Homo sapiens: one gene and its partners. The protein of the gene in region 1 purifies or fractionates together with the protein of each later gene. This does not show direct contact. Each region holds a gene or a part of one and is shown in the gene's direction. Other genes may lie near its edges.

Region 1 (7,037 bases):
GCTCACTGCAGCCTCGACCCGCAAGTAGAGTCAACTTAAATGTTTATTCTTGGTTCTCTATTTATATTTAAGAGTAAGGCATTAGGCCAGGTAGAGTGGCTCATGCCTATAATCCCACCACTTTGGGAGGATGAGGCAGGCAGATCGCTTGAGCTCAGGAGTTCTAGACGAGCCTGGGCAATATGGCAAAACTCCATCTCTACAAAAGATAGAAAAAAATTAGCAAGGCATAGTGGTGCACACTTATGGTTCCAGCTACCCAGGAGGCTGAGGCAGGAGGATTGCTTGAGCCCAGGAGACAGAGGCCGCAGAGAGCTGTGATTGTGTCGCTGTACTTCAGCCTGGTTGACAAGGGAAGACCCTGTTTCAAAAAAAAAAAGAGTAAGGCATTAAAAAGCTGATAGGTTCTTTTTTTTCTCCATGGAGTGGCCTTGTTGACTGATAGACTTCATTGTAAGGTGATTAAATAGGGACTCTAATTTAATTTAATTTTTTTTTTTTTTTTGAGACAGAGTCTTGCTCTATTGCCCAGGTTGGAGTGGAGTGGCCTGATTTAGGCTCACTGCAATCTCCGCCTCCTGGGTTCAAGCAATTCTCCTGCTTCAGCCTCCCAAGTAGCTGGGAGTACAGGCAAGCACCACCAGACCTGGTTAATTTTTGTATTTTGAGTAGAGTTGGGGTTTCACCATGTTGGCCAAGCTGGTCTCAAACTCCTGACCTCAAGTGATCTGCCCACCTCAGCCTCCCAGAGTTCTGGGATTACAGGCATGAGCCACTGTGCCTGACTGGGACCCAAATTTTTTGTTGGGAGGACATCCTGTAGATACCAGTGTCTGTAGGTCTTTTTTCTTGGGCTTGTGAGTTTCCCCAGAAGAGAATCTTTCAATCTCTAGCTCTAGGGGTATAGAATCCTGGCTGCTAGAGTTCTGGGAACTCAGTGGGAATAGTAGACTGGGCATCTCACTATTGAATACTTAGATTTTCAATTAATCATTCTGGGAATACTGTTATTATCTCTAAATCCAGGATCCCTTTCAAGTCTGAAGATTACAGATACTTTCAAACATGTGACATTTCAAAAAATCCAAAAGCCACTTTCATAGGCCCTGGATTTCTTTGAGAGTAGAGAAGTTGTGTGCCCACCCTGAATGAGGGAGGGGATGGAGAAGTGTGGCTGCTTTGGCAGACTATCTGCTGGTCCTTGTTTTCAGCCCTATCTTAAGAGGGATCTACCACCAATTCCCAGTGATTCCCAATGAATCTCTGTGATTCATTGTCATTATTATTGCTGGATCTTTAGTTTTTCTATCTTTACAACCACTTAGCTTTTATATTTTGTAATGGGCCAAGTTTGATACTACTTTTAAGCATCTAGTATTTTGTTTAACATCACTTTAGTTTTTGTTGTCTCATCTCCATCTCATTCTCTGGTTCAGTATGTTTGGTTCTATTGGTTTAAAAGTGTTAATGTCCACTGCTGTCATTCTAGTGGAGTTGGTGAGGGAACGGGGTTAGCATGTATGTTCAGTCCACCATCTTTAATCGGAAGCCTCCATTCGTTTGTAGGCCCTCTTCTTGATAGCAAGCTCTGCCTTTTTGAGACTTTCACCCTGTAGTCGTAACTTTCAAGGTTGCTTTTTTTCTTTTGTTATTTATTTTTGGCAGTGGAAATGCAGATGTATTATGCAAAGAAAAGGGGGGGTGAGTTGTGGGATTGTCCAGTTGATGAACCTGTTCATATTCTTTTTCCCGAAGATGTTTTATCAATAGATGGCATTGTTCTAAATCAGTGACTAACAAGCTGTTTTTCTTCTTTTGTTTCTTTTTTTTTTTTTTGAGACTGGAGTCTCTGTCACCCAGGCTATAGTGCAGTGCATGATCTTGGTTCCCTGCAACTTCGGCCTCCCAGGTTCAAGCGATTCTCCTGCCTCAGCCTCCCAAGTAGCTGGGATTACAGGCTTGCGCCACCATGCCTGGCTAATTTTTGTATTTTTAGTAGAGACAGGGTTTCATCATGTTGGCCAGGCTGGTCTCGAACCCCTGACCTCAGGTGATCCGCTCTCCTTGGCCTCCCAAAGTGCTGGGATTACAGGCGTGAGCCACTGTGCCGAGCCTTCTTTTATTTCTTGACCTACATACTTTTAACCTTAACACATACAAGGATAATTTCACTTGCATGACTGAGGAAATGACTCACCTCTGATTTATTAATAAGCATATGTATCCAGCTTACTCAGATTATGTAGGTGGTGTGTATCTAGGCTTCAGATCAAGTTGTATCAACAGTTTTGCACTGTATTCTTGATATTAACAAAGTAATACAACCTACTTGTCCAAAGGGATATATATGACTGCATGTATGTGCTGTGTATTCTCTCTTTGAACAGTTGCACACTGACAAGAAACAGATCAGTGTTGGGTTCATTGGCTATCCAAATGTTGGCAAGAGCTCTGTGATAAATACATTGCGTTCTAAGAAAGTTTGCAACGTGGCTCCCATTGCAGGTGAAACAAAGGTACGTTGGGCGCAGGGTGACCTTACTTTTGCATATTTTCTTTTCATAGAGAGTGATTGTTTAGGACTTGTTGATTTCTCTCTGCTTCTCTTGAATGCAGACCACCACTAGGAGTTTAGCTCACCATATAATAGTTTGGAACGTATCAGAGTTGTTTCTGCCCACTTTGATAAGACTGAGAGTATTTTATATGCCCCCGTGTGGCTTTGGCCTGTGTTAGTTAATGTGATTCATATTTAGATCTGTTTTAAATTATCACTCCAGCCTTTTATTTTGATAAACAAAACTAACCCAAGAATATTTGATGCCTGGGTTAAGAAGCCTCAAACTTAAGGTAGGTTCTGAAAGTTGGGGGTCATATCCTAGAACACATAGTGGGGAACAGCATGGTTTTGCTTAAAGGCAATGAGGTCAAGCAGTACTAAGCTCTCAAGAGTACTTCTAAAACTCAGGAAAGGTTCACCGGGTATAATTGCACAATACGAGATGGAAATCCTGTCTCTGTGTTGTTTTTAGACTCTTAGCTGATGGAAACTATAGTTTACACTTAGTGGAAGTATCTTGTGCACGGCACAGATGAGAGAGTTAGTAGCTTAATTACTTAGCGCGTTGCTTTTCTTTGACTCACCCCTTCCTCCTTTCCAGCTTCATACATGAGCATCAGGGGTTTGTGAAATTAGACTCTTAGTGTTTGATACAGGACATCTCTGACTTTTTTCTGACTTCAGGTCTGGCAGTATATTACTTTGATGCGTCGGATATTCCTGATTGACTGTCCAGGTGTGGTTTACCCCTCTGAGGACTCCGAGACAGACATTGTGCTAAAAGGAGTTGTGAGTATTTGGCCCTGATAGGCTGTTTGTGTTTGCGGGGGAGTGTTCTATAGGGAACCCTGGATACCTTTCCTTTTTACTTATTAAGAAGGCAGTTTGGGGTCAGCCTGTCTGACCAAACTTTAGGAACATGATGCTGAACAGCAGCCTCTCAGCATAAGCTGTTTGAGGAATTAGTGGAACCATGGGCATATCTGGTCAATATCATCCCACAAAAGAGTTTGTAGTTTACACACAGGATCCAAAGGGAAGCAGGGCCTGTTTATGCTTAGCGATAATTCGTCTTCGTGGGTTTATGGGTTGAGTCATTTTGGAACCCAGTCATTTCCTCACTTGTTTCTGAATACGACTGAAAAACTGTAAATGGTTCCACTTAACCTTGACCATGCTTCTGGCTATACATCCTGTACACATTCCTCCTCTCCTTTCTTAAACTATTCCATTATTTTTGTGTCCTGGGATGGGCAGGCTTTTAACCATTTCTGCAAGTGAGTAACATGAAGCATTCCAAGTTTAAACTGTGGCAGCCACACAGTTAGTTTGTGGTGAGTGGGGATTAAAGCTGAGTTCTGGGCTCCGTGGCTATGGTCAGCTTTCAGCAGTGCTCCTTGCAGCTGACCATGTCTAGCCCCGTCAGAGACAGGCTCCTGCCAATCTCCACGAGCTTTGTGATGTTGAAGTCTATTTTCAAATAGTGCTGCAAAGGACACTGGGAACTTCACTGCTTCCACAACAAAGTTTGTAAGTGAGAGATTTCCTATTAACATTTAGGTTCAAGTAGAAAAAATTAAGAGTCCTGAAGACCACATTGGTGCTGTACTTGAACGAGCAAAGCCAGAATATATCAGCAAAACATACAAGATTGATTCTTGGGAGAATGCTGAGGACTTTCTTGAGAAGCTCGCTTTCCGGACTGGGAAGTTACTAAAGGTGACCCGGCGTTTGTGAGAATTTAGACTGATACTTGTCACAAGCATGTATGTATATGATATGGGCCTTTTTTTGGTATGCATGTATGAGCAGTGTGAAACTTGTCACTTAAGTGATGATGAACCCCTGGGACAACTGAAATACCCCCAAAGTGGTAGGTGGTTTTGGTCCTTTGAATTTAATTGGGAATCTCTTTGTGACCTTTCAGGGTGGAGAGCCCGACTTGCAGACTGTGGGTAAGATGGTCCTCAATGACTGGCAGAGGGGCCGGATTCCTTTCTTTGTCAAGCCACCCAATGCAGAGCCACTTGTGGCCCCCCAGGTAAGAGCAGGGTGGGCCCACCTCTGGGGAGCATGGGTCCTGACCTAGATTTGGTGTAGCTTGTGATTGTCTCTCTTCATAGAGCGTGTATTCATTCAGCTGCGGTGTCTCTCATTTTATTATTTTTTTAAATATATAAAAATATTTTTGGGGCCGGGCATGGGTGGCTCACGCCTGTAATCCCAGCACTTTGGGAGGCCGAGGTAGGTGGATCACAAGGTCAGGAGTTCAAGACCAGCCTGACCAATATGGTGAAACCCTGTCTCTACTAAAAATACAAAAATTAACCTAGCATGATGGCACGCTCCTGTAGTCCCAGCTACTCGGGAGGCTGAGGCAAGAGAATTGCTTGAACCCAGGAGACAAGTTGCAGTGAGCCGAGATCGTGCCACTGCACTCTAGCCTGGGCAATAGAGGGAGACTCCATCTCAAAAAAATAAAAAAAAATTTTTTTGAGGGTGAAGCACTGTTGGGAGCCACTGCTGGCCCATGGCGATCACTCCACCCTCTCTCATTCTAGAGTGCCAGTGCCATGGCCTTGCTAGGGGGTGCATTTGGAGACTAATAAGTAGACATATGAGAGAAGACCAAACTTAGATACTAGCCTTTAGGGCCTTGGAAAAAGAGGGCTCATTAAATGTAAGTGATCTTCTGGTACCTGTATCTTTTCTTATGCTTACGAAACAGAATCATTGCTAAGATAACATTTGTTTAACAAACATTTATTAGCATCGACTATGTGCCAGGCACAGGGAATATAGGAACGAAAAACAGCCCTGGCCCTCAAAAAACCTGTGATCCAGTGGGAAAGGAGAGTGGTACTACTGATAGTCGGAGAAAGAAGACTGAAGGCTGGGGCCAGAAGCTCTCCTACTATCCCCATTTCCCTCACCCTGGCAGTGGGCCGCCACAAGGCTCAACGTTAACGTTTTGCCTTTCTGGTTCTAGGACCTTTTTCAGAACCCAGCCAAGTCTCTTGAAATGGTGGCTTCAAATTGTGCATCTATGCTTGCTAGTGTCGTTGGGTCCATACAGTGCTGGTTTCCTCTCACCTGACCCCATTCCAAGTTGCAGTTGCAGCTAGGTATTTTCAGTTGAATGTATTCTGCAGCATTTGAAAGTTAGCCTGAAACTGATGTTAATTGACATTCTCCCTTCTCCCTGCCCAAACCATCAAACAACCAAACAAAAATTTCTCTCCCTCTTCATGTGTATTGCATCTTTCATTCATTAATTCACTGATACATTCACCCAGCAATCCCATATTGAGTGTCTCCTGTTGGCCACAGACTCTTCTGGGTACTGGTGGTGCTGTGGTGAGAAACTGACAAGCTGCTGCTCTCCTGCACATATATTCCAGCAGGGGAGTGTGTGGTTTCTTCTGACACCAAATACATAATTTTTTTCCATATCAGTTCTGCAGTTCTCAGATACCAGCTGAGTGTCCCAACAATTTAATTCAGTTGTGACACTAACTCCCGGAGTTAGCACAGACCCCACAAGTTAAGGACTAGGTCCCCTGCTTCAGATGGCAGCTTCAGGCTATCCACACTTACGCCCGGCTAACTACAAATTCAGGGGTTCTGGGGTTTGATAATTTGCCAGAAGGACTCCCAGAACCCAGGAAAGTGCTGTGTTTACAATTAACGGTTTATGATAAAGGATGAAACTCAGTCACAGCCAGTGGAAGAGGTGCACAGGGTAAGGTATGGGGGAGAGGCACAGAGCTTCCATGCCCTCTCCACACATTGATGTGTTCAGCAACCCAGAGCTTTCCAAACCCCATCATGTAGGGGTTTTTATGGAGGTTTCATTACATAGACATGACTGATGAAATCTGTGGCAGTTGGTGATAGACTCAATTTCTGGTCTCCCTTCTCTCCTCTGAGTGGCTGAAAGCACCAACCATGTGGTCAAGTGCTTTGTCTTTCTGGTGACCAGCGCATCCCCCATCCTGAAGCTATCTAGGGGTCTACCATGAGTCACCACATTAGCATAAACTCAGGTGTGGTGGAAAGGGGCTTGTAATCAATAAAAAAGATACCCATCGCTTGGGAAATTCCAAGGGTCTTAGGAGCTCTGTGCCAGGAAGTGTGACATTTATATCACAGGGAGACAGTAGGCAGATAAACATATAATGTCAGGAAGTCTTGCGTGCTGTGAGGAAAACTAAACCAGGCTAAGGGGTTTGGGGGAGATGAGGAGTACTTTGGGGTGGTCGGGGAAGGCCTCTGAGGCAGTGGCACTTCAGCAGAGCCCTTAATATGAGACAGGAGCCATGCTAGTATCTAGGGAGAATGTTCCAGGCAAGGGGAACAGCACATCCAGAGCAGCTGGGGCAGGAGTATGCTCTGTGTGTCCTGATGCTGAAAGGAGGTCACTGTGGCTGGAATGTCGTGGGCCAGGAGAGGGTGTCATGGTGGGAAGCCATTGGAG
Region 2 (3,188 bases), on another chromosome or scaffold:
CTGCAGCCTCCGCTTCCCGAGTAGCTGAGACTACAGGCGTGCACCACCACATCCAACTCATTTTTCCATCTACTTTTTGTAGACATGGAGACTCGCCGTGTTGCCCAGGCTGGTTTTGAACTCCTGGGCTCAGGCAGTCCCACCACTTCAGCCTCTGGAGTAGCTAAAACTGCAGGTGCGAGCTGGAAGCAGCATTTCTAGCCAGTGCCACAGTCCACGAACAGTGTGTGTATCCCCCAAAGCCCCCACTTCCCCAAACTTTGCCATGAGTCTACTGGACTATGCTCTCTTCCTCCCCTTCCAGGTGAACCTGAACACCATCAAGCGCTGCCTCCTCATCGACTACAACCCCGACTCCCAGGAGCTGGACTTCCGCCACTAGTGAGTGTCCCAGCAGGATGGGAGACGAGGGGGTGCCGGGTGGGGGCCTCCACATGCGGCTGATGACAGCACTTCTGCTGAGACGCTGTGATTGCTCTGTCCAAAGTAAACGCCCTGACGCACTGTGGGAAGGGTGAGATGGGCACCGCCAGCCCCATCACGTGCCCCCTGACCACCCCCTTGCCGTCCACTCATGTTCCTGCAGTAGCATCAAAGTTGTTCCTGTGGGCGCGAGTCGCGGGATGAAGAAGCTGCTCCAGGAGAAGTTCCCCAACATGAGCCGCCTGCAGGACATCAGCGAGCTGCTGGCCACGTGAGGAGGGCATAGGGCGGGAGGCCACTGCGGCCCGGGGACCCCAGAACAGGACCGGGAGCCTGAGCTCCCCCACTGAGCCCTGTTATGTCCTACACACAGGGGCGCGGGGCTGTCGGAGAGCGAGGCAGAGCCTGACGGCGACCACAACATCACAGAGCTGCCTCAGGCTGTCGCTGGCCGTGGCAACATGCGGGCCCAGCAGAGTGCAGTGCGGCTCACCGAGGTGAGGCCCAGGGCAGGGGGACCCCCGGGCTCCACCAGTCCCAACGGTGGGCTGACGCTTCTTCCTCGTCCCCTCAGATCGGCCCGCGGATGACACTGCAGCTCATCAAGGTCCAGGAGGGCGTCGGGGAGGGCAAAGTGATGTTCCACAGTTTTGGTGAGGCCGGGGCCGCCGGGGGTGGGGGGTCATGGGTGTGGAGCTGCACCCGGATCTTGGTGACCCGCGTCTCTTGGCTCAGTGAGCAAGACGGAGGAGGAGCTGCAGGCCATCCTGGAAGCCAAGGAGAAGAAGCTGCGGCTGAAGGCGCAGAGGCAGGCCCAGCAGGCCCAGAATGTGCAGCGCAAGCAGGAGCAGCGGGAGGCCCACAGGTCCAGGCAGAGCTGGGAAGGGCAGGGCCAAGGGGGGGTCCCTGGGATGGGCGGCTATGTTGACCCCCACGCCCTCCTCCAGAAAGAAGAGCCTGGAGGGCATGAAGAAGGCACGGGTCGGGGGTAGTGATGAAGAGGCCTCTGGGATCCCTTCAAGGACGGCGAGCCTGGAGTTGGGTGAGGACGATGATGAACAGGAAGATGATGACATCGAGTATTTCTGCCAGGCGGTGGGCGAGGCGCCCAGTGAGGGTATGGAGTGGGGTCTGCAGCAGGGCACCCAGAGCCTGTCCTTGTCTCTGGGGGCCCTGACACTGTCTCTCCCCACAGACCTGTTCCCCGAGGCCAAGCAGAAACGGCTTGCCAAGTCTCCAGGGCGGAAGCGGAAGCGGTGGGAAATGGATCGAGGCAGGGGTCGCCTTTGTGACCAGAAGTTTCCCAAGACCAAGGACAAGTCCCAGGGAGCCCAGGCCAGGCGGGGGCCCAGAGGGGCTTCCCGGGATGGTGGGCGAGGCCGGGGCCGGGGCCGCCCAGGGAAGAGAGTGGCCTGAGCCCAAGCCGCACCGGAGCAGCGGCTGGATTGAACGCCCCAGATTGGGGCCCGAGATGTGGCCCTCGGTTTCCTTTCATAAAGGAGTTGTGTCCCCAGCCCTTCCACTCCAGTAAAGAACTGAATTGGCCAGGGGTCCACGTCAGCGTTTGGGATGGGGGATTCTGGAGCCATACAAAGCAACCCAGAGAGTCCTGGGCCGGCCACACCCGAGAGTCCCTCCCACCTGGTTTCTTCCTGGAAGCTGGGTCTCTCCCCTACCCTGCACGGGGTTGGTTTCATTGGTGGCAGCAGCAGCCATGAGTGGCCCCTCCCCCCAGTCCCACCAAAGAGCCGTGCAAGCAGACAGGTCACACTTTCAGCAGATGAGCTTGAACCTCAGGAGGGTTGTGGCACAATGAGGAAGGAAACGTGGGTGGAAAGGCACGCTGGCCTGCTCTGCTGGCTGGGCCAGTAACTGGGGATGGGGCTGGGGCAGGGCCCACTAAGCCACTGGTGACTGGGGGAGGGGCTGGGGAACTGGGTAGCAGACACAGGCTGAGGATCGGCACGGGAGCATGGCAGCCAACGTCTCGGGTAAGGAGAAGGCATGTTGGCTGTCTCTGGGGGTCTGCAGATTGTCAGGAGGTGGGGGTAGTGGGTATTGGTAAAACACCTAGGTCTGGGGCTGGGCACGGTGGCTCACGCCTGTAATCCCAGCACTTTGGGAGGTCGAGGGGGGTGGAACACGAGGTCAGGGGTTCGAGACCACCCTGACCAACAAGGAGAAACCCCGTCTCTACTAAAAATAAAAAAATTAGCTGGGCCTGGTGGCACATGCCTGTAATCCCAGCTACTCGGGAGGCTGAGACAAGAGAATCACTTAAACCCGGGAGGCGGAGGTTGCCATGAGCCGAGATTGCACCATTGCACTCCAGCTTGGGCAATGAGCGAAACTCCATCTCAAAAAAAAAAAGCCTAGGTCAAGGCTGGGTGTGGTGATGCGAGCCTGTGATTCCAGCTACTCGGGAGGCTGAGGCAGGGGGATCACTTGACCCCAGGAGGTCGAGACTGCACTGAGCTGTGATTGCACCACTGCACCTCAGCCTCGGTGACAGTGAAATCCTGTCTCCAAAAAAAAGCCACGTCTAGACGACACTTCCTCCTTAAGCAGGCTGGCGTTGGGAGCAGGGAGGCGCCTCCGGAGAAGCCTGTCCCCAGCCTGCAGAGGCAGGGGTGGGGTGCACAAGGAGTGAGTGCCCCTGTGCTGCTGTGCCCTGGGCACTGTGGTGAGCACTGGCACCAGTAATGGGTAAGCAGGCCCCCCCATCCTCCCGAAGGAGGGAGATTTTTCTCACCGTCATCAGGTGG
Region 3 (7,037 bases), on another chromosome or scaffold:
AACTCTTTGATCTATATACTGAAGATCTATGCATTTCAACAAATCCCACAACTCAGTTTAAAAAAATGATTTAGGCTGGGCACAATGGCTCACAACTCTAATGTCAGCACTTAGGGAGGCTGAGGTGGGAGGATTGCTTGAGACTGGGAGTTTAAGACCAGCTTGGGCAACATAGTGAGACCCTGTCTCTACAAAAAAATTTTGGTTTTTTTGTTTTTTTTTTTGAGACGGAGTCTTACTCTGTCACCCAGGCTAGAGTGCAGTGGCACCATCTCAGCTCACTGCAATATCTGCCTCCCAAGTTCAAGCGATTCTCCTGCCTCAGCCTCCCAAGTAGCTGGGACCACAAATGTGTGCCACCATGCTTGGCTAAATTTTGTATTTTTAGTAGAGACGGGGTTCCACCATGTTGGCCAGGCTGGTCTTGAACTCCTGACCTCAAGTGATCCACCCACCTCGGCCTCCCAAAGTGTTGGGATTATAGGTGTGAGCCATCATGCCCGGCCTAAAAAATTTTTATTAATTGGCCAGTCATGGTGGCGCGTGCCTATAGTCCCAGCTACTTGGGAGGTAGAGATAGGAGGATTGCTTGAGTCCAGGAGTTTGAAGTTACAGTGAGCTATGAATGTACCACTGCACTCTAGCCTGGGTGACAGAGCGAGACTGTGTTTCTTAAAAAAAAAAAAAAAAATTATGCGTATGTTTTTCGGAGTTCCTAAACACACGTCTGTATATGACCCAGAATAATGGCAATCCTGTCATGTGGGCTCTGTGCTGTCCTGGTGCACTCAGCCTACAGCTGCCATGCCAGGCACTATTACTGCTAAGAATATATGTGTGTGCATGTATGTATATATGTGTGTGCACGTATTATATGTGTGTGTATGTATATGTGTGTGCATGCATGTGTGTATATGTGTGTGTATGTGTGCGTATGCATGTGTGCGTGCATGTATGTGTTGTGCATGTATGTATATGCGTACATGTGTATGCATGCATATGTGTGTGTGTATGTATATATGTGTGCATGTGTGTATACGATGTATGTATGCATGTATGTATATATGTGTGCATGTATTTTATGCGTGCATGTATGCATATATGTATGCATGTTATGTATATGTGTGCGTGTATTTTTTTCTATGAAAAATTGGTCAGTTTTGGGAAGACATTTTAGCATGACCTTTCTTCTGATCCAGTTGATTAAAAGTCTTACTTGCGGTAGCAGTTGGCTATATTAATTCAGCACTTTTATTTCTGAAGATCTAAAACCCAGCATTCTCTCCCTTTTCTCCCACCAACAATGTTCCTGTAAAGTGGAGGGAAAGAAAATGAGTGACCCTTCTCATTTGATCGTTAGGAACCAGGTGGTGAGAGAACTAATGGAGATGCTTGACAAAGACAAGAACAGATCCTGCATTGCTTGATGGGACAATAAAGTTTCCCATAGGCTGGCTGGAGAAGACTCACTTCTCAGCATCTTGGTGTTTTTTCTTTGTTTGTTTGTTTTGATTGTTTTGAGATGGAGTCTCGCTCTGTTGCGAGGCTGGAGTGCAGTGGTATGATCTCGGCTCACTGTAACCTCCACCTCCTGGTTTCAAGCGATTCTCCTGCCTCAGCCTCCTGAGTAGCTGGAACTACAGGCACGTGCCACCACGCCTGGCTAATTTTTGTATTTTTAGTAGAGACAAGGTTTCGCCATCTTGGCCACGATGGTCTCAATCTCTTGACCTTGTGATCTACCCGCCTCGGCCTCCCAAAGTGCTGGGATTACAGGCGTGAGCCACCGCACCTGGCCAGCATCTTGGTTTTTAATCATTGCCTGGGGGAGCTCCTGCACAGCGTTGCTGCACACCCATTCGCCCCAAATTGTCTTTTTCTTGTTTGTGGCGGGGCAGTTTTGAGACAGTCTCGCTCTGTCGCCCAGGCTGAGTGCAGTGGCTCGATCTCGGCTCACTGCAACCTCTGCCTCGCGGGTTCAAGTGATTCTTGTTCCTCAGCCTCCTGAGTAGCTGGGATTACAGGCAGTGCACCACCATGCCCAGCTAATTTTTTGTATTTTTATTAGAAGTGGGGTTTCGCTATATTGGTCAGGCTGATCTCGAACTCCTCGAGGTGATCCCCCTGCCTCAGCCTCCCAAAGTGCTGGGATTACAGGCGTGAGCCACTGTGCCCGGCCCCCAAATTGTTAAAGACCAGACAAGCTGGGCATTTTGTGTGGTTGTGGATGGAAAGGGCAAATTGATCTTTACTCTCAAAGTGAATTTTATTTGTCTTTTCCTTGATTTTTCAAACAGGATGTAGGCTATCCGGAATTCCTCAACATACGTCCGTATATGTCCCAGAATAATGGTGATCCTGTCATGTATGGACTCTATGCTGTCCTGGTGCACTCGGGCTACAGCTGCCATGCCGGGCACTATTACTGCTACGTGAAGGTGAGAGGCTTGTGTCAGTGCAGCTGCCTCCTGGGACAGGTTTCAGCACCCATGCACATCCAGATGCGGCCTCTGTAGAGCACTTACTTTGTGAAAAGTGTGATGTTTTGTGGTTGTATTCAAGTCCTCGTTGTTGCCTCTCTGCGTGGAGTGAAAAGATGCCCTTTACAGAAGTGTTGCACCAGAATCTAGTGTTCTCAGACTTGCAGGGAGACACGGAAGAGGCAGCCGCTTCTGGTGCCATCCTTAGAACCCTGGCAAAATCGGCCATGGTGATGACACTGCCTGAATGTCCTTTAGAAGGGACAGTTCCTATCTGTTGGGGCACTAGGAAGGAACTGGGACGCAGAGCACACTTTGGGGTCACATTCCGAGTTATGAAAATATTACACGTTTTAATAGAAGTTGTTACCTGTTGATTATTAATAGTGTTTGGAAATGTAGCAACTAACAGATTTTTTATTCCCTTTTTAAAAAGTGAGGATAATGGGATGCTTGTTGATTGTTTTGTTTTCTGCAACATCCTTGGCTGCTTCAGGCAAGCAATGGACAGTGGTACCAGATGAATGATTCCTTGGTCCATTCCAGCAACGTCAAGGTGGTTCTGAACCAGCAGGCCTACGTGCTGTTCTATCTGCGGTAATAAACTCACGCCCTCCCCAGATGAGCTCACTCCCTCTGCTCTTTTCTTATACCGGTGGGCCTCCCTAACCTTTTTTTGTTTGAAGGTAATTGGGAATTCCACTGGAGGGATTTGTCATGTGTCATAGAGACCGTCCACAGGGAAGGACACTTTTTAGTAAAGCCAGAGCCTTGGGAAGGTCAGGACAGGATCCCATCTGCCCTCACATTGATGCTGTTTTGAATGTAAACAGGAAAGTCACCATTTATAGTATTGCCCCAAATTAGAGGTACTGCTCCCTGGATGGTAGCCAGCCAATGCCCCTTCCCGTGTGGGGAAGCTGCCCCTGTAGGGATATGCTGGGAAGGACGTGTTTGTGGGGGTGCTGCTGCAGAGCTTCTCTGGAGGGGCCTTCTCCTGGAGCTGGCTGTCACTGACCTGGAGGCTGGAGACCGTGGCAGCTGAGGCATTTTTGCTGCTTTGTACGTCTCTGCAGAGTGTGGCTGAGGTGTTTGAGGTTCTTGCTTTCTGGTGCATTGAACTCTGATCTTGGAGGAATTCTGACTCTAATTTGCCCTTGCTCTGCTTATATTCAGCAGATACTTGGGGCTGATCTCTCAGCCTCACTGTGGTTGAAAGGCAAAGGGAGATTCCAGAGAAGTGGTTAGGACTGGCAGGGTTTCCCCAGGCCGTGTTTCTGCCTTTGCCCCGCCTTAACTTATTCTAATTCTCTCCGTTTCTGTAATGCCTAGTAAGAGAATTCCCTACTTGTTTTCTTCCTTTGACAGAATTCCAGGCTCTAAGAAAAGTCCCGAGGGCCTCATCTCCAGGACAGGCTCCTCCTCCCTTCCCGGCCGCCCGAGTGTGATTCCAGATCACTCCAAGAAGAACATCGGCAATGGGATTATTTCCTCCCCACTGACTGGAAAGGTATTTGTGAGAATGATGGAGGCCAAAGTGGCTGGTCTTGGTGCTCCTCACAGACCTCCTCACACTTGGGAAGTTGGCCACAGTGGAAGGAATTTGCAGGCAGTTTGCACTATTCTAGTTGATGTTATTTCTTTTCTTTTCTTTTTTTTTTTTTTTTTTTTTCGAGACAGAGTCTCGCTCTGTCATCCAGGCTGGGGTGCAGTGGTGCGATCTCCAATCTCGGCTCACTGCAAGCTCTGCCTCCCGGGTTCCCGCCATTCTCCTGCCTCAGCCTCCCTAGTAGCTGGGATTATAGGTGCCCGAACCACGCCCGGCTAATTTTTTTTGTATTTTTAGTAGAGACGGGGTTTCACCGTGTTAGCCAGGATGCTTTCGATCTCCTGACCTCAGGATCTGCCCGCCTCGGCCTCCCAAAGTGCTGGGATTACAGGCATGAGCCACCGCGCCCGGCCAATGTTATTTCTTAAACTGGTCATCAGCTGACATTGGCTATAGAGAAAGAGGAGACATGAATGAGAAAATTCTGACCCAACAAATTAGAATTGTCATTCACAGATCTGTTCTACTCATGAGACCAGCACCACTTACAGGTGTCGTGACAGGTGTGCCAAGCAAACTTTCTGTGTGCACTCCTTTTATTTCCTTTATAATGCCAAGCAAACTTTTTTTTTTGGAGACAGGGTCTCACTCTGTTACCCAGACTGGAGTACAGTGGCACAATCATGGTTCAGGGCAGGCTTGAGCTCCTGGATTCAAGCCACCCTCCTGCCCCAGCATCCCTAGTATTCGGGACTATCAGTGCACTACCACACCCAGCTAATTTTTAAATTTTGTGTAGAGACAGGGTCTCACTATGTTGCCCTGGCTGGTCTTAAGCTCCTCAGCCCAAGCAATTCTCCTGTCTTGGCCTCTCAGAGTGCCAGGATTACAGGCACCAAGCAAACTCTTAACCGTAAGCGTGTAGGAAAAAATATCCTTTTTTTTTTTTCTTTGAGACGGAGTCTCATTCTGTCGCCCAGGCTGGAGTGCAGTGGCGCAACCTTGGCTCGCTGCAACCTCCACCTCCCAGGTTCAAGCGATTCTCCTGCCTCAGCCTCCCGAGTAGCTGGGACTACAGGCGTGTGCCACCATGCATGGCTAATTTTTTTATTTTTAGTGGAGACGGGGTTTCACTTTATTAGCCAGGATGGTCTCTATCTGCTGACCTCCTGATCCACCCGCCTCAGCCTCCCAAAGTGCTGGGATTACAGACGTGAGCCACTGTGCCCGGCCTGTTCTCACATTTAACGGGGAAAATGTGAGTAGTTTGTACCAATGTTAATTTCCTGATTTGGGTAATTCTGCTGTGGTTATGTAAGAGAGTGTCTTTGTTCTTTGGAAATACACATGGACATATTTTGGGGTAAAAGAACATCATGTCTGCAATTTACTCAAATGGATCAGAAATAGAAATATGTGTATATGCATACGTACATAGTCATACATATATACACACGTACATATACATACAGAGAGAGGATGATAAAGGTTATGTGGTTACAGGTTAACCATTAGGAACTACCCTCTAAGTTACCTTTGTGTGTATTTGAAATTTTCTGCTAGAACTGTTAAGAATTCAGTTTCACTAAGTGGATTCATGAGCAGTTTCCTCATTAGAACACAGTGATCATTTGAAGTGGGGTGGACCCTCTTGATGACTGTTTCTTTTTTTTTTTTTTTTTTTTTTTTTGAGACAGAGTCTCGCTCTGTCACTGAGGCTGGAGTGCAGTGGCGCCATCTCAGCTCACTGCAGCCTCTGCCACTATGCAGCCTCCGCCTCTTGGGTTCAAGCGATTCTCCTGCCTCTGCCTCCTGAGTAGCTGTAATTACAGGTGCCCGCCAGCACTCCCGGCTAATTTTTGTAGTTTTAGTAGAGATGGGGTTTCACCATGTTGGCCAGGCTGGTCTGGAACTCCTGACCTCAAGTGATTCGCTCAGCTTGACCTCCCAGAGTCCTGGGATACAGGCATGAGCCACCGTGCCCGGCCTGGATGACTGTTTTTGATGGATCGTCTTCCTCTCCCTTTAGAATGAAGAGTTGAACCCCACACACAGGCAGTCAGGGCCTTTCACAGTCTGCAGGGGTTTTGGTCATTTACGTACATCTGTATTTCTCTTCACATTAAAGAAAATAGAAGCTGAAATTAGAAGCATTAGAATTGAAGTGGCAGTAAAATACATGATATAATTGCAAAGTTGGTGGTCACTGTAGCCCAGACTAGGAAGTTAGGAAGCAGCCTGGGCCTGGGACTGTGACTCATGTCTGTAATTCCAACACTTTGGGAAGCCGATGTGGGAAGATCAGTGGATCCCAGGAGTTCGAGACCAACCTGGGCAAAACCCTGTCTCTACTAAAAATGCAAAAGCTAGCCAGGTTTAATGGCACGTGCCTGTATTCCCAGCTACTCAGGAGGCTGAGGTGGGAGGATCACTTGAGCCAGGGAGATTAAGGCTGGAGTGAGTCATGATCATACCACTCCACACCAGCCTGGGCAACAGAGCAAGACCCTGTCTCAAAACAAATTTAAAAAGTAGCCTGGGCAACATAGATCCCATCAGCACAGAGAATATTCAGTAAGCTGTTGGGGGAGGATCACTTGAACCCGGGAGGTTGAGGCTGTATGCAGTGAGCCATGATCACGCTGGTGAATTCCAGGCAAGGTGACAGAGTGAGACCTTGTCTACAAAAAAAAGAAGAGGGGGGCCGGGCACTTTGGGAGGCTGAGGTGGGTGGACCATTTGAGGTCAGGAGTTTGAGACCAGCTTGCCAATATGGTGAGACCCTGTCTCTACTAAAAATACAAAAGTTAGCTGGGCATGGTGGCGTGCGCCTGTAATCCCAGCTATTCGAGAGGCCGAGGTAGGAGAATCGCTTGAACCCGGGAGGTGGAGGTTGCAGTGAGCTGAGATTGTGCCACTGCACTCCAGCCTGGGTGACAGAGCGGGACTCCATCTCAAAAAAAGGAAGCAGCCTGGGCAACATAGAAAGACCCCCATCTCCAAAACCC

The links. The genes of interacting proteins can lie anywhere in the genome.
Region 2: the proteins of GNL2 (region 1) and PPAN purify together in Homo sapiens (affinity purification with mass spectrometry; 3 studies listed by BioGRID). This does not show direct contact.
Region 3: the proteins of GNL2 (region 1) and USP36 purify together in Homo sapiens (affinity purification with mass spectrometry; 3 studies listed by BioGRID and IntAct, with this or other methods). This does not show direct contact.

The regions. Positions count from the first base shown.
Region 1 is NC_000001.11:37,571,907-37,578,943, reverse strand, and holds part of GNL2 (nucleolar GTP-binding protein 2), read left to right. Parts: intron 1-2,387; coding exon 2,388-2,516; intron 2,517-3,244; coding exon 3,245-3,349; intron 3,350-4,120; coding exon 4,121-4,279; intron 4,280-4,487; coding exon 4,488-4,601; intron 4,602-7,037. UniProt on the Homo sapiens protein: GTPase that associates with pre-60S ribosomal subunits in the nucleolus and is required for their nuclear export and maturation.
Region 2 is NC_000019.10:10,109,327-10,112,514, forward strand, and holds the end of PPAN (suppressor of SWI4 1 homolog), read left to right. Parts: intron 1-304; coding exon 305-381; intron 382-422; exon of another isoform or gene 423-514; intron 515-586; coding exon 587-694; intron 695-796; coding exon 797-920; intron 921-997; coding exon 998-1,076; intron 1,077-1,158; coding exon 1,159-1,288; intron 1,289-1,370; coding exon 1,371-1,540; intron 1,541-1,618; coding exon 1,619-1,839; 3' UTR 1,840-2,395; coding exon of another isoform or gene 2,396-2,414; 3' UTR 2,415-2,686; downstream 2,687-3,188. Other genes in the region: PPAN-P2RY11 protein, read left to right, coding at 305-381, 587-694, 797-920, 998-1,076, 1,159-1,288, 1,371-1,540, 1,619-1,696; P2RY11 (P2Y purinoceptor 11), read left to right, coding at 2,396-2,414. UniProt on the Homo sapiens protein: May have a role in cell growth.
Region 3 is NC_000017.11:78,809,813-78,816,849, reverse strand, and holds part of USP36 (ubiquitin carboxyl-terminal hydrolase 36), read left to right. Parts: intron 1-2,297; coding exon 2,298-2,438; intron 2,439-2,976; coding exon 2,977-3,077; intron 3,078-3,848; coding exon 3,849-3,990; intron 3,991-7,037. UniProt on the Homo sapiens protein: Deubiquitinase essential for the regulation of nucleolar structure and function. Required for cell and organism viability.